4 linked regions of the Homo sapiens genome follow. The protein of the gene in region 2 purifies or fractionates together with the protein of the main gene of each other region. This does not show direct contact. Each region holds a gene or a part of one and is shown on either strand. Other genes may lie near its edges. The genes, in order: ABCA3, TMPRSS12, SIDT2 and SOAT1.

The links.
Region 1: the proteins of TMPRSS12 (region 2) and ABCA3 purify together in Homo sapiens (affinity purification with mass spectrometry; 2 studies listed by BioGRID and IntAct, with this or other methods). This does not show direct contact.
Region 3: the proteins of TMPRSS12 (region 2) and SIDT2 purify together in Homo sapiens (affinity purification with mass spectrometry; 2 studies listed by BioGRID and IntAct, with this or other methods). This does not show direct contact.
Region 4: the proteins of TMPRSS12 (region 2) and SOAT1 purify together in Homo sapiens (affinity purification with mass spectrometry; 2 studies listed by BioGRID and IntAct, with this or other methods). This does not show direct contact.

Annotation. Positions count from the first base shown.
Region 1 is NC_000016.10:2,330,729-2,337,752, forward strand, and holds part of ABCA3 (phospholipid-transporting ATPase ABCA3), read right to left. Parts: intron 2,006-7,024; exon of another isoform or gene 1,519-2,005; intron 1-1,518. UniProt on the Homo sapiens protein: Catalyzes the ATP-dependent transport of phospholipids such as phosphatidylcholine and phosphoglycerol from the cytoplasm into the lumen side of lamellar bodies, in turn participates in the lamellar bodies biogenesis and homeostasis of pulmonary surfactant.
Region 2 is NC_000012.12:50,880,910-50,887,933, reverse strand, and holds the end of TMPRSS12 (transmembrane protease serine 12 precursor), read right to left. Parts: intron 2,689-7,024; coding exon 2,546-2,688; intron 673-2,545; coding exon 421-672; 3' UTR 50-420; downstream 1-49. UniProt on the Homo sapiens protein: Required for male fertility. Plays a critical role in sperm capacitation and acrosome reactions during fertilization, and also plays a role in the regulation of proteins involved in spermatogenesis.
Region 3 is NC_000011.10:117,173,826-117,181,766, reverse strand, and holds the start of SIDT2 (SID1 transmembrane family member 2 precursor), read right to left. Parts: upstream 3,025-7,941; 5' UTR 2,504-3,024; coding exon 2,321-2,503; intron 352-2,320; coding exon 230-351; intron 1-229.
Region 4 is NC_000001.11:179,338,792-179,345,815, reverse strand, and holds part of SOAT1 (sterol O-acyltransferase 1), read right to left. Parts: intron 6,379-7,024; coding exon 6,271-6,378; intron 4,789-6,270; coding exon 4,506-4,788; intron 3,807-4,505; exon of another isoform or gene 3,703-3,806; coding exon 3,624-3,702; intron 2,955-3,623; coding exon 2,873-2,954; intron 2,227-2,872; coding exon 2,181-2,226; intron 870-2,180; coding exon 740-869; intron 1-739.

The sequences.
Region 1 (7,024 bases), on a different chromosome or scaffold from region 2:
TACTCTGTCTCCCAGGTTGGAGTGCAGTGCCGCGATCTCTGTTCACTGCAAACTCCGCCTCCCAGGTTCACGCCATTCTCCTGCCTCAGCCTCCCGAGTAGCTGGGACTACAGGCACCCACCACAGCGCCCGGCTAATTTTTTTTGTATTTTTCAGTAGACACAGGGTTTCCCTGTGCTAGCCAGGATGGTCTCGATCTCCTGACCTGGAACATCACCCTTTTGCAGACGAAGAAACAAGGAGGAAATGCCTGGCCCAAAATCACACAGCAAGAAGCTGCCAAGTCAGGGCTTGAACCTTGGCTTGTTTTAACTTCCAAGTCTGTCTTCTAACTACTACACTACTACAACCTGTGGGTCCTAAAAACACAGAACAACTTCCAACTTCATACAAGTTTTGCATATCACTCCTAGAACATAACATCAGAAACTGAAAGGTAAAAAAGACCCCTAAGCCCCATCACCTTAATAGAAGTTTTCTTTTCTTTTCTTTTCTTTTTTTCTGAGACAGAGTCTCGCTCTGTCGCCGAGGCTGGGCACGATCTCGGCTCACAACAACCTCCACCTCCCAGGTTCAAGTGATCCTCCCATCTCAGCCTCCCAAGTAGCTACAGGCACATGCCACCACGCCCGGCTAATTCTTGTATTTTTAATAGAGACGGAGTTTTGCCATGTTGGCTAGGCTGGTCTCAAACTCCTGACCTCAAGTGATCCGCCCGCCTCGGCCTCCCAAAGTGTGGGGATTACAGGCGTGAGCCACTGTGCCCTGCCGAGGTTTTATCTCTGTGCCCCCACGGCACCCAGCTTGTTGCCTGATACGTGTGAGGCTTTACCTAAAGTCTCACTGAACACTACGCTTGCATCTGTTCTGTTTCAGCAAAAGGAGTTTAAAGGAAGAGATCCTAGAATTACAAAATCTGGCAAGTTTTTTGTTACAAAAGCAAATGTACACAAGAGAAAGAAGTTAATGTTCCTTCTGCACTTGACGCCGAGGCGGCAGAGTCTCCAGAAGTGCTGATGACTGAGGCCCAGGACCGGCCCCGGCTGAGCCCCCATCAGCTACTCTAAGTTAAACACTCAGGACTCCAGCCACTCCTAAAGCTGCCGCCTCTGCCCAGCAAGAGGACAAGAGCAGAGCTTCAAGAACTTCCCTTTGAAGAGGCTCTCTTCACTAGTCCCGGGACACAGTCAGGAAAGGGAAGGCAAACCTTTTCCCCTCTCTATAAAAGGTTTGCTTACTGTTAAAATATTAAACATCACACATATCATTGAGTATCTCAATGTTTGTTTTTTAGGTAAGCAACTGACTCGGTGCAGAGTGAGCGCATACTGCAGGCTGCTCATTTCTCAGAACTCTCTTGATGGCACAAATTCTTCTACAAATGGTCTTTCCAGTAACTGTTGTCAGCTCAAGAGCCATCGGCTGTGCCAGTTAACAAGCGCTGTGGCTCTTCAGGCGGCCAGTGCTCAGCAGCAAATTGGAGAAATCCCAAACTCCTCCATTTCTTTTTTTTTTTTCCTTGAAACTTTAAAATCCTTCAAAATCTGTTTATTATACAGGTGAATTTTGATAGTCACGATGGGCTTATCGGTAGGATTTCTAGTAGCGAGCACAGGCACCAGGGCTTCTAAACTTTTTGGACTCGCAGGGACGGGGATCAGCTACCAGCAGGGTCCGGTCATACAGGATGAGGATGTCTTTGATCTCCTTCTTGGAAGCCTCATCCATATACTTCTGGTAATAGGCCACCAGGGCTTTGGAGATGGACTGACGGGTAGCATAAATCTGGGCCACATGACCACCACCCTCCACACGGACACGAATGTCCACACCAGCAAATCGCTCCTTGCTGAGAAGCAAAACTGGCTCCAGCAGCTTGTACTGTAGCGTGGGCGGCTCAATCTTCTCCAGGGGCCGCCCGTTCACCTTGATGAGACCATTGCCGCGTTTGCAGTGTGCCACAGCTGTGGCTGTCTTCTTGTGTCCAAAGACCCGCACCGATTGCCTCCTCCATTTCTTTATTTGTGGTTTGCAGGTATTTTTGTGTGCACCATAGGCTTGAATTTGCCACCCAATTCCTATGTGCCCTTTTTTTTTTTACACAGTCTTGCTTTGTCACCCAGGTTGGAGTGCCGTTGCGTGAGCAGGGCTCATCGCAGCCTGGTGCTCCTGGGCTCAAGTGATCGTCTTGCCTCAGCCCCCTGAGCAGCTGGGACCACAGGCACATGCCACCATACCTGGCTACTTATTATATTTTTTGCAGAGATGGAGTCTTGCTATGTTGCCCAAGCTGGTCTGAAACTCCTGGCCTGAAACAATCTTCTTCCCATCTTGGCCTCCCAAAGTACTGGGACTATAGGTATGAGCCATGCTGCCTGGCCCTTATGAGCCCTTTCAAAAGAAGTTTTTATATCTGCATATATGGAGCAGAGGTCCCTGGGGGTGGTGGGTCTTGAGACCCATGAACAGAAGGGACAGGCCAGAGTGAGGGGCACAAGACCCATTACGCCATGTGTTCCTGTTGTATTCTGAGCTTGGTTACACCTCCCTCCATGAAAGCCTGTCCACAAAGGCATAGAGAAATCCACTCATGGAAAGAAGGGGGCCTTGATAAAGCCACAGGTGAACCGCCCCAAGATGCACAAAGAGAGCCGCCAACCATGGCTCTGCTCGCTTTGCCACAGGTGTGGTGCTGGTCACATTTGGTGCTTTTCCTTCAGGGGAGGACCCAACATCCCAATATTGACACCAGGAGTCTGCAACAGCCAGCCAGCATCAAAGATCCGCGTGTATGCGCACTGAGGCACGGAGGACAGTCAATTAATGGAGGCCGGTAGAATCCATGGTCTTTTAGGGTATACAAGACAAAAAAGCATTTGTTCATTCAACAATTGCCAAGTTTTTGCTGTCTGATGGGCACTTGTACAAGGTACTAAGGATTTGGAAATGAAAATAACATTCTTTTTTTTTTTTTTTTTGAGACGGAGTCTCACTCTGTTGCCCAGGCTGGACTGCAGTGGTGTGATCTCAGCTCACTGCAACCTCCGCCTCCTGGGTTCAAGCGATTCTGCTGCCTCAGCCTCCTGAGTAGCTGGGATTACAGGCGTGCGCCACCATGCCTTGCCAATTTTTTGTATTTTTAGTAGAGACAGGGTTTCACCATGCTGGCCAGGCTGGTCTCAAACTCTTGACCTTGTGATCCACCCGCCTCAGCCTCCCAAAGTGCATGCTGGGATTACAGGCATGAGCCACCACGCCTGGCCGATGATAACATTCTTAATCCAAGGAGTTCACAGTCCCTGAACACTTGCATGCACTGTAATTGCTGTGACGGATGCTAAATAAAGTATGGCAAGATTCAGGAGAAGACAGGAATTAATTGCGTGTGTGAGACAGCGAGCAAGACAGGGAGATGGCCCGGGAGGGTGATGGGGGGAGGTGACATGGGAAGCCGGTCTTGAATGACTCATTAGTTGGGACAGGAAGGACATTACAGGATCCTGGAGACAGACTGTGTATGGGGAGCAGCGAGTCATTCCGAGTGGCAGTGCAGAGAATGAGCCAGGAAAGGCGCAGACCCTGGGCCCATGTCATCAAGGCGCTGGATGTTGCACCAAGAAGGGAGCTCGGGGTGTGTCCCAATGGGCAGTGATGCTGGGTGAGGGTGACTGGTTTTGTTTAATCCTTTATCTAGGACATTATCTTTTTTGAGAGACGGGTACACAGTAAATATTTGAAAATGTCTAATTCAATGGATCCTGTGGATGAAATGCCCAAACACCAGTAATTTTTTTTTTTTTTTTTGAGACGGCATCTCGCTCTATCACTCAGGCTGGAGTGCAGCCCGATCTTGGCTCAATGCAACCTCCGGCCCCCAGGTTCAAGTAAGTGATTCTCCTGCCTCAGCCTCCCAAGTAGCTGAGGAGTACAGATGCCCGCCACCACACCCAGCTAATTTTTTGTATTTTTAGTAGAGATGGAGTTTTGCTATGTTGGCCAGGCTGGTCTTGAACTCCTGAACTCAGGTGATCCACCTGCCTCAGCCTCCTGAAGTGCTAGGATCACAGGTGTGAGCCACCGTGCCAGACTTAAATATTAGTTCTTTTTTTTTTTTTTTGAGACGGAGTTTCACTCTTGTTGCCCAGGCTGGAGTGCAATGGCGTGATCTTGGCTCATGGCTACATCCACCTCCTGAGTTCAAGCGATTCTCCTGCCTCAGCGACCTGAGTGGCTGGGATTACAGGCACTCGCCACCACGCCCAGCTAATTTTTGTATTTTCAGTAGAGACGGGGTTTCACCATGTTGGCCAGGCTGGTCTCGAACTCCTGACCTCAAGTGATCTGCCTGCCTCTGCCTCCCAAAGTGCTGGGATTACAGGTGTAAGCCACTGTGCCCGGCCCTAAATATTATTAATATATAAAAAAAGCAGGCACATTTATAGAGTATGGTCCTCACCCCTTCCCAGTGGTCTCCAAATGGGGTGGGCTAGACAACCTGCAGCAGTGAAAAAGTGATGAAAAAATCTACTTGTAAGTATTTTTCTTTAAAAATGTGAAAAAAATGGCTTCACTGATTTGTTTGTTTGTTTGTTTGTTTCCTGTAGGGACAGGATCTCAGTCACACACAGTTATCCCGGCTGGAATGCAGTGGTGTGATCCTCCTGCCTCAGCCTCCTAAGTAGCTGGGACTACAGGCATGTACCACCACACCTGGCTTTTTTTTGTAGAGACGAGTCTCACTATGTTGCCCAGGCTGGTCTCAAACTCCTGGGCTCAAATGATCCTCTTGCCTCAGCCTCCCAAAGTGCTGGGACCACTGGCATGCGATACCACACCCTGCCAGCTTTACTGACATTTAATACTTGGACAGACCCTGGTGTTCACGCTGGCTTGTATGTCAGCAGCCGTGGCATCCTGACTGAGGAGGAGGCACCCTGTGATGTGGGGAGTGATGGTGGGCCCTCACCACAAGTCTACTTTAAGCATCCTAGGCGTGTTGGAGTTTACAAGTTTCAGAGCTTTCCAGTTGTGGTCAATTAAAACAAACAAACAAACCACAAAAACTCAAGACCCTTAAATAGCGAAAGCTTTACAATGCTTCGCAGTGATGTGGAAAATGACCATGAGTATCTTTTGTGTGACTTGGAGGTTTACTGGTCATTTCATGGCTTAGTATTTCAAAGAGTCAGAGAATTTAAGGAGAAGGTACAGATTTTCTTTTGTGAAAAGTTCCAAATCCGGAGACATTTTTTCGTTTTTAATGACAAATGACTGCAGCAGTGTGTCATCTACCTTTTTTCTTTTAAATAGACACAACGTAATCTGTCCCTTCAAAGAAAAAGTGACAGTATATGAGAGTTACAGCTTTTCAAAAAGAATCTGTACCAAGAATAGAGCATTTGTGAAAACAGACGTTTGAAGAGGTTTCCACAATTACGTGACTGCGTTCCCAATGATGCTACAAGCGTACTGTCTATATGAACATTTACACCCGCACACCAAAACATCTTCAACACCAGAATCTCCACCTACCCTGATAGCCCCTGAACATACCCAGCCCAAATTCATCAAGGGCCCTCAGATGATGGGTAAATGAAATTGAAAAACAAGTACCCTGCCTCGTAAGCACAGGGTCTGTGCCTTTCTCTGTATCATGTTAATGTGTAAATGCTGTTAATAACTAGGGCCTGAAATATACAGAACTTTTTTTTTTTTTTTTGAGACAGAGTTTCACTCTTGTTGCCCAGGCTGGAGTGCAAAGGTGCAATCTCGGCTCACTGCAACCTCTGCCTCCCAGGTTCAAGTGATTCTCCTGCCTCCGCCTCCTGAGTAGCTGGAATTACAGGTGCCCGCCACCACGCCCAGCTAATTTTTTTTTTTTTTTTTTTTTTTGTAGAGACGGGGTTTCACCATGTTGACCAGGCTGGTCTAGAACTCCTGACCTCAAGCAATCCACCCACCTCGGCCTCCCAAAGTGCTAGGATTACAGGCGTGAGCCACCTCGTCTGGCCAATAAACAGAACTTACAATTGATCTTAAATGCTGGGACTTAGGATTCAATGAGAGTTTATAAATGGGATGTGGACACATGGCTTTCATCTTTAAAAAGCATGTTTATACAATAGTTTTTGTAGCATTCATATGTTGGATAAATTTAATCATGTTTATTTCACCTCTCATCCTTTTTTTTTTTTCTCTGTTAGAGACAGGGTCTTGCTCTGTTTCCCAGGCTGCAGTGCAATGGCATCATTATAGCTCACTGCATTCTTGAATTCCCAGGCTCAAGCGATCCTCCCTCCTCAGCCTCCACAGTAGCTGGGACTTCAGGTGCACGCCACCATACCTGGCTATTTTTTTTTTTTTTTTAGTAGAGACAGGGTCTCACTATGTTGCCCAGACTGTTCTCAAACTCTTGGCCTTAAGGGATTGTCTCATCTCAGCCTCCCAAAGTGCTGGGTATACAGGTGTGAGCCACCATGTCTGTCTGGCCTTCGTCCCTTTAAAAGATCCAAATTTGTATATATTTCTATGTCCATAATACATCAGGACAGTAATTGTAATTTATAACACATAATATATATTGGGCTGCATGTTTACATTCATTCTTTTACACATAACAGTACACATGAAAAAAAAAGTCTGAGGCCTTTTTTTTTTTTTCATGCAGGGTCTCACTCTTTTGCCTAGGCTGGAGTATAGATAGTGGTGTGATCATGGCTCACTGTAGCCTTGACCTCCTGGCTCAAGTGATCCTCCCACCTCAGTCTCCCAAATAGCTGGGACCATGGGTGTGCACCACCATGCCCGGCTAATTGTTTGATTTTTTTTTTTTTTTTTTTAGAGATGGGATCTTGCCATGTTGCCCAGGCTGTTCTTCCAACTTGTGGCCTCAAGTGATCCTCCCGCCTTGGCCTCCCAAAGTGCCAAGATTACAGATGTGAATCACTTGCACTGGCCAAGGCCAATTTATAACCTCAGTGGCCCTTGTGGGGATGAGGTAGGAACAAATGCACAACCCACAGCC
Region 2 (7,024 bases):
ACTTTGAGAATTGGAAACAAGATTATAATTTAAAAAAATCATACAAACATTTTTTAGAATAAAATCTAAGAAAGAATTTTTATTAATTTAACCAAATGACAGCTTTCATTTTAATTATAAACTATTATTTGGCATTTATACACATAAAATATATGTTTAACTGAATATTTTGTACAAACTCTATGAGTATTCCAGATACAGAATTATGATTATAAAATAATCAAGATATTTCAAGGAGACATGTGATTCAGTGCCAAAATTACAATTGTATATCTGTCACAATACTTATAGCCCATAAAATGTTCACATGAAATCTCTAATGTAGGCAATTAATTGCTAGAAGAATAAATGATGTTCATTATATAGAACATAGAAAGGGACACAATGCAAAATAAAGATATGAAAGCCTTCAGAATTTCTTTATGTTGTTGCTAGTAAGATGACAAAACATAAAGCTATGAGGATCTGGCCACGTAAAATATTTATAGTAAGTATGCCTTGAGTGCTTGCATGGAAGAAATGCTCTGTCAGCCACTTTTGGTAGAAGGATGGCCCAATATAGACACCAGGAAAACCTCTTCGACCACAGCCATGTCCGTAACTGGTAATTCCCATTACAAAAAATCTTTTATATTCTGGTAAGTAGCACATTAATGGTCCCCCACTGTCACCCTGTCAAAAAAGTCCCAAAATAGTGTTTGTTACTTCTAGTATTCTTCAAGCAACAGTAACACTGGAATAAATTATTTACATCAAACATACATTTATATAAATACACATTTTCAATATACCCCCAATTTATAAAGATCACTAGATTTTGAGCTTAAACTTCCAACTCAAACAGGAGGAATTCAATTTTACCCAGGTATTTGGAGGAACCATATAGCTGGTAGATAAATTTCTCATCTGCCTGGTTTTGAGCCAGAATACTATAAATCAAATTGTTTGGATTTTTAAATATAATTACTTAGGAGAAATATAATTTAGGAAGTGTGCAAAATATTGTCAAAACTGTCTATTATTAGAATATTCTCTTGCTGAATACTGCGTGTGGAAAGGATAACTTTAAGATGTATGAAGGATTCTTTTAGGCACGTGTGTGGTTTGCTTGCCAGGGAGAGGAGTAAACTGGCATCTTGCAATAGAAGACAAGTTTCTAAGTGTTGACAATAGCTAGTGCAGGAAAATGAGCATAAATGGCAAAGCCTCTCAGTAGTATTATAAATGACAGGTCACTTTCATAGTCTATACAAAATTAGGAATGCACCCAAATGCTGTTACTAAGGCCTGTTAATGCACTGAAAACAACAAGGACACTGAGATAACTGTTTCCGATTCTCTATATAAGGCAGGCATTGAATAATTATTTTTTGATGATGAGGATGTTTGGCCTAGGAATGCAATTCACTTAGATTGGATTCTTTACTATTTCATTCAGCAAGATTTTTAAGGAAAAGGACACAGAAAAGATAAACTTTAGATTGCAGAAATGAGAATGAGTAGGAAAAGGTGAGAGCATGGGTTACTCAGGAGTGAAGGACTAGTAGCTTTGGAAATAGTGAAGAAAAGAGGAATAAAGGAAGAGTAAAAAAGCATGAGACAAAACAAAAAATGGATCAATTGTACTTCATTAAAAAAATTAACATTTGTGCTGCAAATGATAACCTCAGAAAAGTGAAAAAACAGTCTACAGAATGGGAGAAAAATTTTGTACATTATGTATCTGGTAAGGGACTTGTATCCAGAATATATGAAAAATGCTTATAACTCAGTGATAAAAAGACAACTCAATTTAAAAATGAGGAAGGGATCCAAATAGACATTCTGTAAAGAAGATATATAAATGGCTAATAAATACATGCAAAAATGCTCAACATCATTAGTCATTAAGGAAATGCAAATTAAAACCACTATGAGATACCACTGCGCACCCACAAGGATGGTTATAATAAAAAAGACAGTAACAGGCTGGGCGCAGTGGCTCACCCCTGTAATCCCAGCACTTTGGGAGGCCAAGGTGGGCAGATCACTTGAGGTCAGGAGTTCAAGACCAGCCTGGTCAACAAGGTGAAGCCCTGTCTCTACTGAAAATACAAAAAAAAAAAAAAAGAATGGCCGGGCATAGTGATGTGTGCCTGTAATTCCAGCTACCTAGGAGGCTGAGGGATGAGAATCGCTTGAACCTGGGAGGCAGAGGTTGCAGTGAACAGAGATTGTGTCACTGCACTCCAGCATGGGTGACAAAGCGAGACTATCTCAAATAAAAAAAAAATTGAGCTGTACACTTTTAACTAGGTGAATTATATCTCAAAGGTAATGATTAAAAAAAAGAATTCAAGGTAAATTCTGCCTACTGATGACAGCAGAAACCATGGAATCAGGAACCAAGAAGATTTGGATTGTTGAAATAGTTAAAAAGGAGAAAAAATGATTTATTATTTTTAGGCCTGATAATTAAGACCACCAGAAAGTTATCAAAGGCCTTGTTTGACAAGTTCCCTTCTGGCTTCAGAAAATATTTTAAAGGAAAATTACTTGGTCTTACCCTGCAAGTATCAAAAGCTCCATCTTCATCACCTGCACAAAATGAAGTGTTAGGAATTATTCCCCCATAACTCCTCTCAGAATTACACATCTCTCGAGAAATATAATGCACTTCTGCATCTTGTAAAATATTTGTAGCGTTACCTGTTAACAAAAAATACCAGTAAGTTATCTTGGAGCAGACATTTTTACAGTGATTTAAATGTTAGTGTTTTATGTTTTCTTTCCAAAGTGACTGATGCAATAATTATGTAAAATTATATTCATATATATGTGTATGAATATGTATGTATGCCTAGGAAGATTGTAGAAGAATGTTTACCTAAATGTTTGTTTGTTCGTTTTTGAGATAGAGTCTTGATCTATTGCCCAGGCTGGAGTGCAGTGACGTGATCTCGGCTCACTGCAACCTCTGCCTCCTGGGTTCAAGCAACTCTTGTGCCTCAGCTTCCTGAGTAACTGGGATTACAGGTGTGCAACACCACACCTGGCTAATTTTTTTTTTTTTTTTAATTTTTGAGATGGCGTCTCACTCTGTCACCCAGGCTGCAGTGCAGTGGCGTGATCTCGGCTCACTACAACCTCTGCCTCCCAGGTTCAAGCAATCCTCCTGCCTCAGCCTCCTGAGTAGCTGGGATTACAGGCACTCACCACCATGCCCAGCTAATTTTTGTGTTTTTAGTAGAGATGGGGTTTCACCATGTTGGCCAGGCTGTTCTCGAACTCCTGACTTCAAGTGATCCACTCATCTCGGCCTCCCAAAGTGCTAGGATTACAGGTGTGAGCCACCATGCCTGGCCAGATGTGCCTTTTTATATTCCCACTAGCAAAGTACGAGGGTTTCAAATTCTTCACATCCTCATCAATGCTTGTTATTGTCTAACTTTTTAATTATAGTCATCCTTGTGTGTCATCCCAGCACTTTGGGAGGCTGTTTTAAAATTACTGCTAGTGTATAGAAATGGAGTAGATTTTGTATATGGTCTTATGCTGGCTGTATTACTAAACTCTGTTAATTCCAATGGATTTTAGAGCCTATTTTAGTTACATCATCTGTGACTAATGAATATTTTGTTATTTCCTTTGTAAGTTGTGTGTGTACCTTCTTCTAGTATTAACACACTTGGTAGTACTTCTACAGTATTGAATACAAGTGGAGAAGTTGTTCTTGATTTTAAAGGAATGTTTTACTGTAATGATGTTTGCTGTAGGTTAGAGGTCATTAACCTTAATTAGGTTAAGGAAATTCCCTTCTATGTCTAGACTGTTAAGAGTTTCTAACAATGCTTCTACTGCATTTATTCAGAAAATATTTTTTATCCTTTAACCAATCTGTGATGAATTCCATCAAGAGACTTCTAATTTTATTTATTTATATTATTATTTTTGAGACAGGGTCTTGCCCTCTTGCCTGGGTCCCAGAGTGCAGTGGCACAATTAGCTCACTGCAGCCTCAAACTCCTGGGCTCAAGCAATCCTCCCACCTCAACCTCCCGAGTGCCTGGGACTATGGGCATGTGCCATCATGCCCAGCTAATTGTTATTTTTGGTAGGGATGGGGTCTTGCTGTGTTGCCCAGGCTGCTCTCAAACTCCTGGCTTCAAGTGATCTTCCCACCTTGGCCTCCTAAAGTGCTTGGATTGCAAGCATGAGCCACTGCACCCAGCTGAGACTTCTCATTTTATTTTATTTCATTATTATTTATTTACTTTTTGAGACAGAATCTTGCTGTGTCACCCAGGCTGGAGTGCAGTGACGTACTCACTGCAACCTCTGCTTCTTGGGTTCAAGTAATCCTCCCTCCTTAGTTTCCAAGTAGCTGGGATTACAGGTGTGTACCACCACACCCAGCTAATTTTTAAATTTTTTGTAGAGTTGAGGTCTTGCTATATTGCCCAGGCCATTCTTGAATGGGCCCAAGCAATTCTCCTGCCTTGGCCTCTCAAAGTGTTCGAATTACAGGTGTGAACCACCACAGCTGGCTGACTTCTAATTTTAAACCCTTGGATTCCTGAGATAAACCTAATTTGGTTATGATTAATTCTATTTTTTTTGAGTCAGCGTCCTGCTCTGTTGCCTAGGCTGGTGCCTAGTGTAGTGGCACAGTCATAGGTTGCCACAGCCTCAACCTCCTGGGCTCATGTGATCCTTCTGCCTCAGCCTCTTGAGTAGCTAGGACTACAGGTGTGCACCACTATGCCCAGATAATTTTTTGGTTTTTTTTGTAGCAACAGTGTCTCAGTATGTTGCTCAGGCTGATCTTGAACTCCTGGCCTCAAGCAAGCCTCCTAATTTGGCCTCCCAGAGTGCTGAGATGACAGATGTGAGCCACTGTACCTGACCATCAATTCTATCTATAATATACTTTGTAGATTTAGTGTGTTATTACTAATAATTTGTTTGAAATGCCTGCATTTATAACGTTGGGCTTTCTCTTACTGCGTTTACTTGATTTTGGAATCAATAATATGATTATTTCATACACTGAGCTGGAGTATATTCCTTCCTTTTGTATTCTTTGGAAGCGTATGTATAGGATTTAGATGATCTGTCTCTGGTATTATGGTAGAACTCACTTGTTCTGAGTTCTGGTTTTTTATTTTTGAAAAAGAAATCTACTGATTCAATTCCTTTACACTCTATAGGACTATAGAGGATTTCCATTTCTTCTTTGGTCAGTTTTGGTTAGTTACCATTTTCATATTTAGTCAATTTATTAATTTCAGTTTGGGTTATTTACAAAGGAATTTATTCGTTTTGTCTAAGTACTAAAATTTACAGCATAACATTTTAAAAAGTACTGTGCTATATGTTAGTTCATAATATTAATTTGTATTTGTGCCTTCTTTCCTTTTGTCACCAGTCTTACCAGTGGTTTGTTGTTTTTTCAGAAAACTGGATTTTGGCTTGTTGGTTTTCTCTTTTCTATCTTTATTTTCTGTTCATTAACTGCAGTGCTTACCTTTATGTCTTTTTTTCTGCTTTCTATGGGTTTAGAATGTTCTTTCTTTTTTTAGCCTCCCTCCATAGTAGCTGAGACTACAGACATGTACCACCATGTCTGGCTGTAATATTCTTTTTTTTTTTTTTTTTTTTTTTTTTTAGAGAGATGGGGTCTTGCTCTGTTGCCTAGGCTGGTCTTGAACTCCTGGGCCCAAGCAATTCTCCCACATTGGCCTCCCAAAGTGTTGGGATTACAGGTGTGAACAACTGTGCTTGGCCAGTGCAATGTTTATTTAAACTTTAAAAAAGCTAGACTTTGAATTCATAGTGTTCAGACTTTATTCTTCAATATTAGGTCAAATGTTTGCTCTTCCGTATGATTCAAACTAACTAACTAAATAAACATATATATATATATATATATATATATATATATATATATATATATTTTTTTTTTTTTTTTTTTTTTTTTTTTTTTTTTTTTTGAAGTGGTCTCGCCCTGGGCTGGAGTGCAGTGGCGTTATCTTGGCTCACTGCAACCTCTGCCTCAGGGGTTCAAGTGATTCTCCTGCCCCAGCCTCCCAAGTAGCTGGGATTACAGGCTCACGCCACCACGCCCAGCTAATTTTTTGTATTTTTGGTGGAGACAGGTTTTTTACCATGTTGGCCAGGCTGGTCTCGGACTCTTGACCTCGTGATCTGCCCGTCTCAGCCTCCCAAAGTGCTGGGATTACAGGCGTGAGCCACAGCACCTAGACTCAAACTAAAAATATATATTTCTAAAACTTTAAATTTTATGTTTTACCTCTATCTGCAGCTCTCAAGTTTTGTTATGTACCATATACATTATTGTTCAATTCTAAGTATTTAAAATTATTATGATTTCCTCTTTGACATATGAGTCATTTAGTAGTGTGTTTTGAATTCTCCAAATGTGTGATGTTAAAAAGCTTACCCTTTTGTCATTTTTTTACAGCTTTATTAGGGTTTAATTTACATAACATGAATATCACACATTGTACCAATGCAGTTGAGTGATTTCTGCTAAATTTACACCAGCACCACAATCCAGTTTTAGAGTATTTCCTTCACCTCACAGAGTCCTCCTATGCTCACTTGTAATCAATTCCCAGCTCCAGCCCCACACTTAAGAAATGACTGATGGGCTGGGCTCAGTGGCTCACGCCTATAATTCCAGCACTTTGGGAGGCTGAGGCGGGCAGATTACCTGAGGTCAGGAGTTCAAGACCAGCCTGACCATCATGGAGAAACCCCGTCTCTACTAAAAATATAAAAAATTAGCCAGGCATGGAGGTACATGCCTGTAATCCCAGCTACTCGGGAGGCTGAGGCAGAAGGATTGCTTGAACCCGGGAGGCAGAGGTTGTGGTGAGCTGAGATTGTGCCATGGTACACAGCCTGGGCAACAAGAGCAAAACTCTGTCTCAAAAAAAAAAAAAAAAAAAAAAAAAAAAAAAAAGAAATTACTGATTCCTGTCTCTATAGGTTTGCCTTTTCTTGAAATTTTATATAAATG
Region 3 (7,941 bases), on a different chromosome or scaffold from region 2:
CAGCCGGCCTGCCCCTCCAGAGGAGCGAGGCCCCACCTCGCCCCGTCTGGTCTCCACCACCTCCCTGCGAGGTGCACAAGCTCCCGGCTGGTGGGACTCGGCCCTTGTGCTGTTGACCAGCCTCCCAGCCCAGGGAAAGGGGAGGAGAAATGGGGGGGCTCCTGGTTGAGGCTCCAGCCAAGGACTGGCCTAGGCTGCCCCGCTTCCCTGATGCCCAGATCCTACTCACATCCCTCGCAGGATTAGGGGCACCTGGAAGGACACCACAGCCTCCTTCTGGCGGACCACAAACAGCAACGGCGCCCCCTTCTGCTTGTTCAGGACGTTCACAGACACACGCACGCCCTCTGTCTGCAGAACGACATGGAAATGCCTCTCAAGCCTCTGCCACCAGGGACACGTGGCTCCAGAGACTATGAGCCCTGCCCTCCTTCATGCCAGCTACTTTGGTCTTTCTCCATCTTGGTCGGGCCAGGGAGTCATCTCTGCCTCTTCTTCTGCCAGAACAACCCCCAGACTCCAGGAAAGACCTGTGCTGAGTGCAGCTCCTGGCCGGCAGACATGTGCAGGGCAGCAGGACCCAAGCAACCGCAGGGTCTCACCCTCTGCCAGGAAACACGGTGGAGGCCTTGCGAGTCTCCAGGATACCCCATTCCTATCCATGTGCACAGGATGCACAGGCCTGCACACACAAACGTGTACACACGCCCCCACACACGAAGACACAGGAGAACAAGAAGTGCTCCTCAACCTTCCTGTGAGCCAGGAAGCCAGCAGGAAGCTCTAGTTAACAGCTAACCTGGGGCCAGAGCCCAGAGGAGTTGAGGAGGGGTAGGTATTGAAGGCCATGTTGTATCCTTAGCTCCCACCAAGGGACAGGGCTGTGGAGAAGTCACTTTACTTCTCTAAGCCTCAACTTCTCCCTCTATAAAATGACAGCCGGGTGCGGTGACTCACGCTTGTAGCACTTTGGGAGGCCAAGGCAGGAGGATCATCTGAGGTCAGGAGTTTGAGACCAGCCTGGCCAACATGGTGAAGCCCCATCTCTACTAAAAATACAAAAATTAGCTGGGTATGGTGGCAGGCGCCTGTAATCTCAACTACTTGGGAGGCTGAGGCAGGAGAATCGCTTGAACCGGGAAGGCGGAGGTTGCAGTGAGCTGAGATCACAAAACTGCACTTCAGCCTGGGCAACAGAGTGAGACTGGTCTCAAAAAAAAAAAAAAAAAAAAAAAGATAAAGTGATCTTCACCCTTGGAGCTATGAAGGAACATATATAAACAATGGGAGCTTAAAGGAAAAATAAAACCAAATCGATCTTGGAATGCTTGTTATTGGGCTGCTGAAACCCAAGCCCTAGGGCAGCATTTCCCAAAAGAGTAAAAACCACAGCTCTCCAGTGCCTTTAGATATGGGAAAAAAGGAAGAAAGGACTCTAAGCAGAAAGAGATCAAACTTCAGAGAACCAGGCACTGGGGGCAGATCCTGGCCTGCCACAGAAACCAAACCACTCCCCGTTCTGAAAAAAAATCAGATTCCCCATTCTCAACTCCATTGCTTCTCAGTAAACGGCAGTCATGGAGAGAGAGCAAGAGACCCGGGCACGAGACCACACAGCCAGGTTGCAAGAATTCTCCCAATCTCAGCTCTGCCTGGGGTCTAGACTTCCCACACTAGCTGTGTCTATTTCAACTCAGGGACTCACAGCTGGTGAAGAAACCAAAGAGAAGTCAGGGTGAAGTGGATTTTTCACAGTGGACAAATTCCCCTTCTCTTCCCACCCAACTTGCAGTTGGCCTTATAAAACCTCTGTCACCCTCAATTTACAAGGCCAGCTGGCTCTCCCAGGCAGGAAGAGGGCTGGGAAGCCCTGCATTCATCTCCCTGGGGAGTCTGAGATGTAACTTGCCTGCACAGAGCTTTTCAGTTCTGGGCCAGTCTCATTCCCCTGAGGTTTTCTGGGCAAGCCCAGTAATAAGCCTGTTTCCTCTCCCACCGAGACCCCACAGAGCTGTCAGATTCTGGGGTTTAGGGTAGAGAGCAAGCCATGTGTGCTCAGACCACAACTGATGGAAGAATGGGGGCGGAAGAGAAGATGGGAATGAGCCAACTTCAAAAACTGCCCAGCTGGAGCTTCAGAGAAACATTGGTGGCAAAGGAAGGAGGACTGGTCAAGAGGCTCCAGTGTGGTTCTGGGAACTGGGAACCTAGCAGGACAGCTCGTTCCTGGGGCCTCCCAAAAGGGTAGCGGGGCGGCAGAATCGCCTAGCCCTCGTCGGCTTCCCCACTCGCCTCTGGCCCCTAAGCCCCCAGCCCTCACCCTGTTGCGGGTCACAGTATGGTTGAAGGTGTAGATGTTGACCAGCTCGCTGTTGACCTCGTCCACGTAGGTGCGCTCAAACTCGGCGTCTTTCTGCGAGACGTTCTTGGGCCCCAGAACCCCCAGATGGCTCTCGACCGAGGCCACCAAGAGCACCAAGAAGGGCAAGCCCAGAGCGAACATGGCCCCGGCAGGGCGGCAGTGGCAGCGGTGGTGGCGGCGGCGGCGGCGACAGGAGACAGGACACCTCCGGGACGGGTTGCGGCTGCGGCCGCAGCTTCCAGCATCTCACCAGGACCAGAACTTTAACCCCGGCCTGAGATTAGGAAATGTCCCCTCCCAAGAGCCCCGAAGAGGCTCCCAGGGTCCCCGCAGGGGAGGGGGCGGCCGGGAGGGGGCGGGGAGGGAGGGGATGCTGGCTACGGGAAGGGGTCCCAGCTCGCGAGGGGCTGAGTACGACCTGAGACCCTGGAGCCCCGGGCCAGGGCCGTGAGAAGGAGGGCGGCTGGTTGCCGGGAGCCTGGAGACGCCGGGAAAGGGGAGGGAGGAAGAGCCGGCGGCGGGGGCTGGCCGCGGAGGAAGGCGAGTCGCAGAGTGAGGGGCGTGATAGGTGGTAGCTACCCGACGCCGTGCTGGGCTGCGAGTTTTCCGAGGTGCGGGCCCTTTAAGGGCGGGCGGACGCGCCGTCCCGACGCACGAACACTGAAAAGTGAGCTGCGCCGCTGGGCGATAAACAGCAGGGCTGCTGGCCCGCCCGCTGACGTCAGGGGAAACTGACACAGATTTAAAGGACCAGGTCCCGCATTTGCCCTTAAAGGGGCTGCAGCTGTCTAGCTGAAGGGGAAAGCTTGCAATGCCTTCTCCAACTCCTACCCAACTCTCTCCCGTGATTTTCACCATCTCTGAAACTCACGTTGGAATAGGCAGATGTTTCTGTTAACAATCTCCAAGTGTTGGGTTCTTGCTGAACAACTCTTACATTTGCTCAAACATAAGGATTCCCCCACCCCCACCACCACCTTTACAACTAACATCGTCCAACCCTGGGCCACTTTTTCTCCGGGGATCTTAAAAAATGAAAAACTCGAAGGATTAGGAAACAGGACGGTGGCCCTACCGGCGGAGGGGAAACGGAGGCAGCACTGCAGGAGGAATCCCCATGCCTTTCCCACCTCCCTCTAGAGGGGCCACACAACTGCAGGGACGGCCTTCCGAGCTTTCCAAGCTTGCCGGGCTGTTTCCCCTCTTCTCTCAGAGACAGTTACAAAACTCATTGAAAGATACTGACCTTCAGTGTAAATTGGTGAAAACTTTTCTACAAAATATTTTGGCACTGTTTCAAGAAACTTAGAGAGCTTTATACCCTTTGATCCAGTAATTCCACTTCTGGACTCTATCCTAAGGAAATAGGAAGCACAGATAAAAATACCTGGGCAGCTACGCTTATCACTGTGATATTTATAATATAAAGCAAAAAGGAAATGACTTGGATATCCATAATGAGGGATTGGTTAAATGCACTATCATGAAGGCATCAAAAATGATGCTTAAGACTTCACAGGACACGTAAGCAGAGAATTCAGGATATGACACTAAATAAACAGTATATAGAGCCAGGTGCCGTGGCTCACACGTGTAATCCCAACACTTTGGGAGGCCAAGACAGGTAGATCACTTGAGGTCAGGAGTTCGAGACCAGCCATGGCCAACATGGTGAACCCCATCTCTACTATAAAAATACAAAATTAGTGGGGCGTGGTGACGCGTGCCTGTAATCCCAGCTACTGGGGAGGCTGAAGCAGGAGAATCGCTTAACTCTACCAGGCGGAGGTTGCAGTGAGCTGAGATCATGCTCCTGCACTCCAGCCTGGGCTGCAACAGAGCAAGACTCTGTCTCAAAAATAAATAAGTAAATAAAACCGTATATATTCCAAATGCATATAGACATGCATAGAAAAATAGAAAAAAATTGTACTAAACATTTAGCAATGTCTCCAGAAAGCAGGGCAAATTTTAAAAATAAAATTTAGCAGTAGTTATCTTTGAATTACAATTTTAAAAATAACACATATTGTATATCATTTTCCTTTAATTCTAAAAATATAGAGTAGTACCAAAAAATAAAAAATAATGGATTGTGAGTGGTTCTTAAATTTTATTTTTTATATTTAAAAAGATTTACAAATGTTCTACAATGTATATATATTTATATATTGCTTTTTTATCTGCCGGGGGGTGGAGACAGGGTCTCGCTCTGTTGCCCAGGTTGGAGTGCAGTGGCACAATCTCAGCTCATTGCAACCTCTGCCTCCTGGGTTCAAGCAATTCTCCTGCCTCAGTCTCCCGAGTAGCTGGGATTACAGGCCATGTGCCACCACGCCCAGCTAATTTTTGTATTTTTGGTAGAGACGGGGTTTCACCATATTGGTCAGGCTGGTCTCGAACTCCTGACCTCAGGTGATCCACCCACCTCAGTCTCCCAAAGTGCTGGGATTATAGGCATGAGCCACCATGCCTGGCCACATATATTGCATTTATAAGACAAATTAGACTTTTTTTTTTTTTTTTTTTTGAGATGGAGTCTCACTGTCACCCATGCTGGAGTACAGTGGTGTGATCTCAGCTCACTGCAATCTCCGCCTCCTGAGTTCAGGCGATGCTCCTGCCTCAGCCTCCCAAGTAGCTGGGACTACAGGCACCCGCCACCACACCCTGCTAATTTCTTGTATTTTTAGTAAAGCGGGGTTTCACCATATTGGTCAGGCTGATCTCGAACTCCTGACCTCGAGTGATCCACCCACCTAGGCTTCCCAAAGTGTTGGGATTACAGGCGTGAGCCACTGCGCCCGGCCAAATTAGACATGTTTAAAGGAAAAGAAATGTGGCCACCTCTGAAGCTGTCAGACATCCTAATAAAGCCACCCAGATCAGTGCCTTGTCAGAGTTCTCTCAGCTGGCAGGATTGCAGCAGTCTCAGCTCCCAGCCCTGCCCAACTATCTGGAGCCTTGTTCCAATGAAGACTATTTTACCTTATGATCAGTTAGTTATATTTACTCATTCCTGCAATAAATATTTAATAAGCATCCACGATGTGCCAGGTACTGTTGTAGTTATGCTGGGCAAATGGTGAGTGGAGGAATTAGTTTTGGCCCCTGTCCAAGCACAGCATACTTGAGGATGAAGACCAGAAGCAAGCTGCACCCCTTTTCCAAAGGGTTCACCAATTAGAAAGTCAGCTGGAAGATAACCTTATGGGTTTCCTTGGCCAACCCCTCATTATACAGATGAGGAAAGTGACGCTCAGAAAAACTTCAGCCCATTAGTACCTCACTAGACTCAAGTTTGCACCTTGGTCCAGTACTGTTTCCAGCACATCTAGGCGAATATGAATCAGAGAATCCTCAGGATGGCAAAAGAGGTTTCTTCATCATGAGCCCTCCATGCAGTCAGCTGCCAAGTTTGGAGAATCAGTGTAGGATTTCCTCAGTCCATCTGGACTTTTCTTTCATGGTAATCCTGCTCATCTTGCCAGTAAATAATCTGAAACATTAAGAAACACTCGTGATACATTGCCCAGGCTGGTCTTGAACTCCTGGCTTCAAGCGATCTGCCACAGCCTCTCGAGTAGCTGGATTACAGGCAAGCACCACTACTCTAAGTTGGCCTCATAACTTTGGGGCAAGATGTGACCCTACGCCTGTTTTAAACGCACATCCAGAGTCCTACTTCACACTTAATTCATCTTGGGAGGTGGAGCCCAGAAAACTGCAATTTAACGGGGCACTCCAGAAGCTTGCTATGCACAATGAAGTTTGAGAACCACTGCTCTGGAACCAAACAACTGTGGACTATCACTATTTCTGTTTGCTCCCTTTCCGCTGGCAATATCTGGAGAGAAATCCATCCAAGCAAACTCTGAAGGGATCCTTCCCTTTTGCAAGGTCTCAAGACTTAACTTTTGAATCGTCAGGACCCTGCGTCTACAGAGTGGGAGGGCAGCAACTGCACATTTTCTTGCTGTTCCCAGGTCTGCAGAACTTTCCTCAGTCCCTCTGCCCTACCCCGCACTTATGAATAGGTCCTTTCTGAGGTCTGTCCACTGGGAGAGAATGCCTTTTTGTTGGCTGCAGCAGTCAGCAAAAAAAGGCAGTGGTGTGTCTCAAAGCCAGACTTGTGAGCACACAGGGGAGATGTCGGGGCCTCAGGGATGTGATCCTGGCCTTGTGCACAGGTCCAGCTACCGCATTCCCTGGCATAATATACAAAGAGCTCAACCCTAACCGTGGCCCTCAAGCGGTCAGGGTGGGGCCATAAGGCTTATTTGACTTATATTTCCCTGTGGACCACCCTTCCTGAGCCTGAGTGTTGAATGGACCAAAGAAATGGGACCATTCAACACACAGCTGAGGAGCTTGCTGGACCCATGAGTCCAGCTCCATTTTAAGTCACAGGGGATTTATGAAGTTTGGGGTGAGAGGACAGGGAGGAAGCTTCAGGTGGCTCAGGGGTATTGTTAAAATGACCTGAAGATGGCCTGGTGCGGTGACTCACGCCTGTAATCCCAGCACTTTGGGAGGCCAAGGCGGTTGGATCATCTGAAGTCAGGAGTTTGAGACCAGCCTGGCCAACATGGTAAAAGCCCGTCTCTACTAAAAATACAGAAAATTAGGTCAGGTGCAGTGGCTCACGCCTGTAATCCCAGCACTTTGGGAGGCCAAGGTGGACGGATCACCTGAGATCAGGAATTCGAGCCCAGCCTGACAGACATGGAGAAACCCTGTCTCTACTAAAAATACAAAATTAGCCGGGCGTGGTGGCACATGCTTATGATCCCGGCTACTTCGGAGGCTGAGGCAGGAGAATCGCTTGAACCTGGGAGGCAGAGGTTGCGGTGAGCTGAGATCACGCCATTGCATGCCTGGGCAACGAGTGAAACACCACTAAAAAAAAAGAAAAAAAAATGGCCAGGGGCGGTGACTCACGCCTGTAATTCCAGTACTTTGGGAGGCTGAGGTGGGTGGATCACCTGAGGTCAGGAGTTTGAGACCAGCCTGGCCAACATGGTGAAACCCCGTCTCTGATAAAAACACAAAAATTAGCTGGGTGTGGTGGCAGGCGCCTGTAATCCCAGCTACTCGGGAGGCTGAGGCAGGAGAATCACTTGAACCTGGGAGGCAGAGGTTGCAGTGTGCGACCACAGGCCATTGTGCTCCAGCCTGGGCAACAAGAGTGAAACTGCCACACACACACACACACACACACACACACACACACACACACAAAAGACATGAAGACTGCACTCGAGCAGGATTTTGTAAGAATCACAGTAAATGGATTAGCTGAATCCAATCAAATTATTTAGGAACCTGGGAGGTAGGGAGTAGCCATGCCTATGGGTGGGAGACAGAATCAAAACAGATTTTAGTATCATGTAATGGTATAACTTTAACCCAGAAAAAAAAGATTCAAAACCAACCCCTCTGAAGGAAATGAACCTGAAGCTTTCTGTTTTCACTGTGATTATAAAAAGGGCTGTTTTTTCATTTGGTGCTTAGAAAGAATTGTCCCAGACATAAGCAGCTCCAGCAAGAGTTCAGCACTTCTTTCCATCATACAAGTT
Region 4 (7,024 bases), on a different chromosome or scaffold from region 2:
CACTTTGAGAGGCTGAGACAGGAGGATAACTTGAGCCCAGGAGTTTGAGAATGGCCTGGGCAACATAGGGAGACCCCGTCTCTCCAAAAAATAAAAACTTAGCCAGGCATGGTGGCATGCACCTGTAGTCCCAGCTACTGAGGCGAGAGGATCACTCGAGCCCCAGAGGTCGAGGCTAGTAAGCCATGATGACACCACTGCATTCAGACTGGGTGACAAAGAGAGACCCGATTTCAAAAAAAAAAAAGGCAAGAAAACAGTGACAAGAGAGATTTAAAAATGTGGTCAGCAGCACCCAATGCTTCATGGAGGTCAACTTGGATAAGGGGTAAAGTACATCTTAATCCATCCACTGGATTAGAATATGGATTACTAGTAATTTCTACAAGTAATTTCTACAAGTTACTAGTAATTTCAACAAGGGGCATTTAAGTGGCTTGGTGGAATCAGGAGCAAGATTACAATGAACTTAATAGCGAACAGGAAGACACAGCATGAATGTGGACTGTCCACTGTCAGAGAAAGGCACAACTTGAGTGAAAGCCATAAGATGAAAGACTGACCTGAGACTGGATGAAGGATACTTCATTTATAAAGTAGATGCAAAAGAGGTCAAGATGGGCATAGATGTATAGAAGTTTAGATGAAAAAGTAGGCAAAGCAAAGGTGCTCATAGGCAATAGCTTTCTATTTACCTCGTGAATTTATGCATGACCAAATTAACAAGTACCCATGTTACCTGGCAAGATGGAGTTAAATACACATAGGACCAGAACACGAGCGCTGAAGGGCTCCTGTTTGATATTCCGAAACAAGGGGGCACAAAGCCTTTCAAAGATGTAGTACACATAGAAAAAGCAACCAAAGACCTGGAACATAACAGAGACAGAATTATAATAACGATGGCTTAATAAGATGGAAGGCGATTTTTTTCTCTCCAAAAGAAAGTACAGATGTGACCCTTACAGTAATGTTCGCATATGTATTCCATTTAACACTAGTATAGAAGACTGCTATAATCCTTCAGGGAGATTACTCAAGCCTAGTTTCTACCATCACTTTTCCTAACCCTTTACCAAATGATATTTTTAGAAGAGCTTACTCTTGGAACCTGTTTTCCTGCTGCTTAAAACCCGTAACATGGCCGGGCACAGTGGCTCACGCTTGTAATCCCAGCACTTTGGGAGGCTGAGGCGGGTGGATGACTTGAGGTCAGAGTTCGAGACCAGCCTGGCCAACATGGTGAAACCCCATCTGTACTAAAAATACAAAAATTAGCCAGGCGCAGTGGTGGGCACCTGTAATCCCAGCTACTCAGGAGGCTGATGCAGGAGAATCGTTTGAACACAGGAGGTAGAGGTTGCAGTGAGCCAAGACTGCATCACTGCACTCCAGCATCGGTAACAGAGCAGGACTCCTTCTCAAAAAAAAAAAAAAAAAAAAAAAAAAAAAAAAAAAAAAACCCCTTAATGAAAGAACTTACTTCATAAATGGGCATTTGATTGAGACACTAATTTAAAATGGGATCTTCCAGGATTAATGATTCTGATGGAGGTGGGAGGAGGAATGGGTAAGAGTCAGACTATACCCACATACATATATACCTCCCCCAAAAACAGGAAGGAAGGGGGAAATTAATGCTTACTGAAATAACCAATTAGAATTACTTTATAAATAATACATTCTTTTTTTTTTTAGATGGAGTCTTGCTCTGTCGCCCAGGCTGGAGTGCAGAGGAGTGATCTCAGCTCACTGTAACCTCCATATCCCAGGTTCAAGCAATTCTCCTGCCTCAGCCTCCTGAGTAGCTGAGATTACAGGTACGTGCCTCCACGCCAGGCTAATTTTTGTATTTTTAGTAGAGATGGGGTTTCACCATGTTGGCCAGGCTGGTCTTGAACTCCTGACCTCGCGATCTGCCCACCTAGGCCTCCCAAAGTGCTGGGATTACAGGCGCAAGCCACTGCGCCCAGCCTAATATATTCTTTTATTAAAGAAAATTACTTTTGATGTTGGCAAAACAAACACCATTTACCGTACTGGAAATAGTTTAAAAGACTGCATAATGTCAACAGAAAGCATTCTTAGCTCCCAATTAGATTTAACTAGATTATATTATTATCATAAATATGAATCCCCATCCCCTAATCAACATACCTTAGGCAGTTACAAAAACTTACCTGTGCAAACTTCATAGCGACATAACCCCATCTTACAGTGGGATTCCTGAAAAAGAAAGAAACAAAAATAAGGTTTCTAAATAAAGTAATTGAACTTGAATAAAGACCCTCACAATTAATGTTTTTTGGTCAGGCGCGGTGGCTCACACCTGTAATCCAAGCACTTTGGAAGGCAGTGACCAGGAGTTCGAGACCAGCCTGGCCAATATGGTGAAACCCCGTCTCTAATAAAAATACAAAAAAACCAACCGGGCGTGGTGGCACACACCTGTAATGCCAGCTACTTGGGATGCTGAGGCAGGAGAATCACTTGAACCCAGGAGGCAGAGGTTGCAGGGAGCCGACATAGCACCACTGCACTCCTGGGTGACAGAGCAAGACTCCCATCTCAGAAAAAACTAAAATTAATTAATTAATAAAAAATAAATTAAAAATAATAAAAATAAATAAAAATTAATTAATTCAGAACATCATTTATGACCATATGAAATACTTTATAATTCTGTCAAGAATTACTATAATCAAATTAGACTTCCCTACTCACCATTTGAGGCTTCTCAGGTCAGACAGAAAATGAAAACTCATTCTATATTTTCTATGTCCCTACATGAACTGGCCCCTGTTTACCTATCCCACCTCACTCATGCCACACTTTTGGTGTTTACCACATTTCTGGTTCACAGTACCATTACCTGGGATAGCTGTCACGGTAGATAAGGGTAGGAGCAAATAAGAAGTACAAATACTGGTTGACTGTAGGTATTGGAACAGTGCCTAGAAAAGGAAAACTATAGTTAGAGCAAAGGCTCTTTGATTTTTCACAGCAAAAATACAGGGGGGAATATAAGGAAGCACAGAACAGGGAAGAATAAAATGACTTATCAGCTCATGTTCTTTTTTCCTGATCTCCGGAATGACTTCTTATTCTTGCACGAATTGAATATTACCAATCTCTTTAAACCAAGTTATTCCTGTGACTGAGATAACTTCTAGAGTGTGAAGCAACAATTTGCAAAGAATAGGCAGGCACAGGTGTAATGAGGCTATTAACATTCCATAAAAATAATGCAAAGTTGCAAAAGATAATCAATTTTTTAAAATTGTAGGTTCAAGGGCAAAGCCGGAATAGTCAGGAAACAATGAAGTGGTCCTCAAAATCAATATGGATAATATATATTTGAAATAAAACACAATCTCTACATTATATAATGTGACATCCCAGAAAACAACAAAGGGTGAAATATCCAGCCAATAATCCTTTAAACTAATGAAATTACACAAAGAAAAGAAAAGAAAAAGAGAGAGAGAGAGAAAGAGAAAGAGAAAAAGAGAGAGGGAGGGAGGGAAGGAAAGAAGGAAAGAAGGGAAGGGAAGGGAAGGGAATGGGGTGGGGGGAGAGGAGGGGAGGGGAGGAAGAAATAATGAACAAAAGAAATTACATACTTGATTTCTCCTTAGCTGAATTTAGTACCCGAGGCACGTTCTCTCTGACAAATGAGTGGGCCTTCATTACAAAACGAATCTACAAAAGCAGGAGGAAAAAGATGTCTCTTCAAAGAAAGTCTCCTGCAAGTGTCCTTTCCATTAGTCAAATGCATTATAGATAGCCAGTAAAGTCAGAAAATCCTGATAAGTGTATAAACAAATTAAAATAAAACCTTTATTATATAGTTACATGACAAAACAATGAATCTGACATTTCAAAAGTGAAGTTTTTAATTATGAAAATATTTTATAATTTAAATGACTTTTACAAAAAGTATTCAGAAACAAAATCTTGATGCATCAAAAATAATTCAATGTGGCCGGGCGCGGTGGCTTACGCCTGTAATCTCAGCACTTTGGGAGGCCGAGGCAGGCGGATCGTAAGGTCAGGAGTTTGAGACCAGTCTAGCCAATATGGTGAAACCCCATCTCTACTAAAAATACAAAAATTAGCCGGGTGTGGTGGCAGGCGCCTGCAGTCCCAGCCACTTGGGAGGCTGAGGCAGAAGAATCACTTGAACCTGGGAGGCAGGGGTTGCAGTGAGCCGAGATGGTGCCACTGCACTCCAGCCTAGGTGACAGAGCGAGACTCTGTCTCAAAAAAAAAAAAAAAAGTTCAACGTAATTTATTTATCAAAATTCAGAGAACATGGAAGCTACAATGAAACTTAAGAGGTGAGATGATTCTAGTTTAACAATTTTACAGATAATGGCAAAAGAACAATATATGAAAATTTATCCAAGTTAATACAGCTAAAAATAATAGTATCAGTATGTCATCATCATTATTATTATTTTAGCCGAGGACAGCATCGCCTTGGGTAACACTTAAAACCTTACCTGCTCGAATATAATGATGAACCGGGAAGCTGGTGGCAGTGTATATGCTAACACAACATATGTTGGTCCAAAACCTAGAACTCCAATCTGGAAGATCATGAAAAGAAAGCCATGGAAGAGAGAACGGATCAGCGGATGAGAACTCTTGCTATAGCCAGTGGCCCAATGTTGAAACAGAAAATAGGGAACTGAAAATGTAGACAGGAACATGATCCACCAGGTCCAAACAACGGTAGGAAATTTGCCAAAAGCATAAGACAGGAGGCTGAACTCAAGCACCAGCCTGGGGAGAAAAGGTACAGAAAAAGAACATAGAGGTGAATTTTTAATATACACTGAGTTCACAGAATTTAAAAGTTTCAAACACCAAACTTTCAACCTTAGGAAACACCACAACGTTAATACGCTGAAGTCATGGATGTAATAGTTCTGCTAGTTAGAGATCTGCTTCTAACCATCTGCTTTACAATATATATATATATATATATATCAACAATATATGTTCTTTAGAAACAAATTTTCTAAAAGCCCTAAGATAAATACAGTCTTCAAACTTAAGATATCTAAGATAATTGGACTTTGAACTTCTGAAAGATTAGATTCTCACATTAATTTTCTAACTGTAAAATATTCTATGGAAAATATTCAAACAGCAATCGTTCTTATGTACAAAAGATGATTTTTCAGAAGAAATAGGTACAATTTAAAAATATGTTAATATACTATACCATTATCTCCAAACTTAATTTTCAAAAAAAGTACATAATTCAATCCATGATTACCACGCTGTCATTTTTTAAGCTACAATTTGAGTTTTAAAATTTTATTTTGAGATCTGGTCTCCTTTGCATCCAGGCTGGAGTGCAGTGGCACAAACACAGCTCCACTGCAGCCTCAACCTCCCTGGCTCAAGCGATCCTCCTATCTCAGCCTCCTGAGTAGCTGGAACTACAAGTGTCTGCCACCACGCCCAGCTAATTTTTAAATTTTTTGTAGAGATGTTGCCCAGGCTGGTCTCCAACTCCTAAGCTCAAGTGATCCTCCCGCCTCGGCCTCCCAAAGTGCTGAGATTACAGGCACAAGCAACCATGCCTGGCCTATAATTTGACTTTCACATTAAAAAGAAATATCAACTTTTTCAACCTTCAATTCCAATAAGCTACTTGTTTTAAGTAACCATCTTAAATAAAGACAATCAAAAAGTTAATAAGTCATATACAGTTATCCCTCCCTATACATGGGGGGTTGGTTCCAGGAAACTGTGCAGACACCAAAACTTATGCAAATTCGAGGCCCACAGTTGGCCCCGTGGAACCCACAGATATGAAAAATCTGCCATTCTTATATGTGTGTTTTGCATCCTGGAATACTCTAGATCCCAATCAGCCTTTGCTTGCAGATGTAGAACCCATGGATACAGAGTGCTAAACACATTGATTGAAAAAATTCTGTGTATAAATAGACATGCACAGTTCAAACCCGTGCTGTTCGTAGGTCAACTGTGTATAAAGTTCTCCCATTTGGGAAAATTACCTAGAAATTACTGATTATGGTCTATTCAAATAAACCATTTTAAAAATAAAAGTAATGAAACTTCTAATTTTCTCCATCAGTTAAACTTTTCAGGGCAAAGGAATATCACCCTCAAATCTGCTGCTTTAGGATTTCCTGAAGCAATTTAATCAATTTACCCTTTACCAAAATTTAGTGAAAACCTCTAACTTCTCATGCATCAACTAGCCAGCCATCTTTTTTGTTGTCTTACCTTCCTTCATCAATGTAATCTACTACAAGTGTGCTGAGGATAAAGAGAATGAGGAGGGCAATAAACATGTGATATATTGTTCTGATGTGGTCCACTTCAAGCAGTTCACTGTAAATGTAGTTCAAACAAAACAAGTTAATAATGTATATTTAAATTTAAAACACCATAAAATCTTTTCTTAAAGCAGTTAACTTAAAGCAGTTGAGAAGATGCTTAATCCACTCTCCAAAAACATCTCAAAAAAGAATGGTCTACATTCTTTAAAACCTACCAGAAATGGATGTTTTCTAAGTAAACAAAGGCCAGTCACTAAAAACAGGAAACAAACTATTTCAAATGTTAAGAATTTTTTAATCCTATTCATATTCTACTCCCTAAATTTAATATATATTAAGTACTACCTATTTCCAAAATGTTAAAATTGACATGAGTTTCTATAATGTTGATCATGATGATGATGATAACCAATTACTACCCTACACGTCTATAAAACTCAACCATTTACAAAGATTTTACCTTCTCATTGACTTTTGTATTTAAGACTGGTCTAATTTTCTTTTAGAATATAACAATAATATAGATGACTTTTCCTAAATAATCTTTTATATCTGACTAAAACAGGTTTTTAAACTTGTTTTAACTTGTTTTTGGAAAGATAATGCTAATCTTTTAAATGATTTTGAGTAATCTAATATACTACTACTCAATCTCTGGACCAAGGATCTTCACAGTCTAATAAAAACTCATCTAAGCC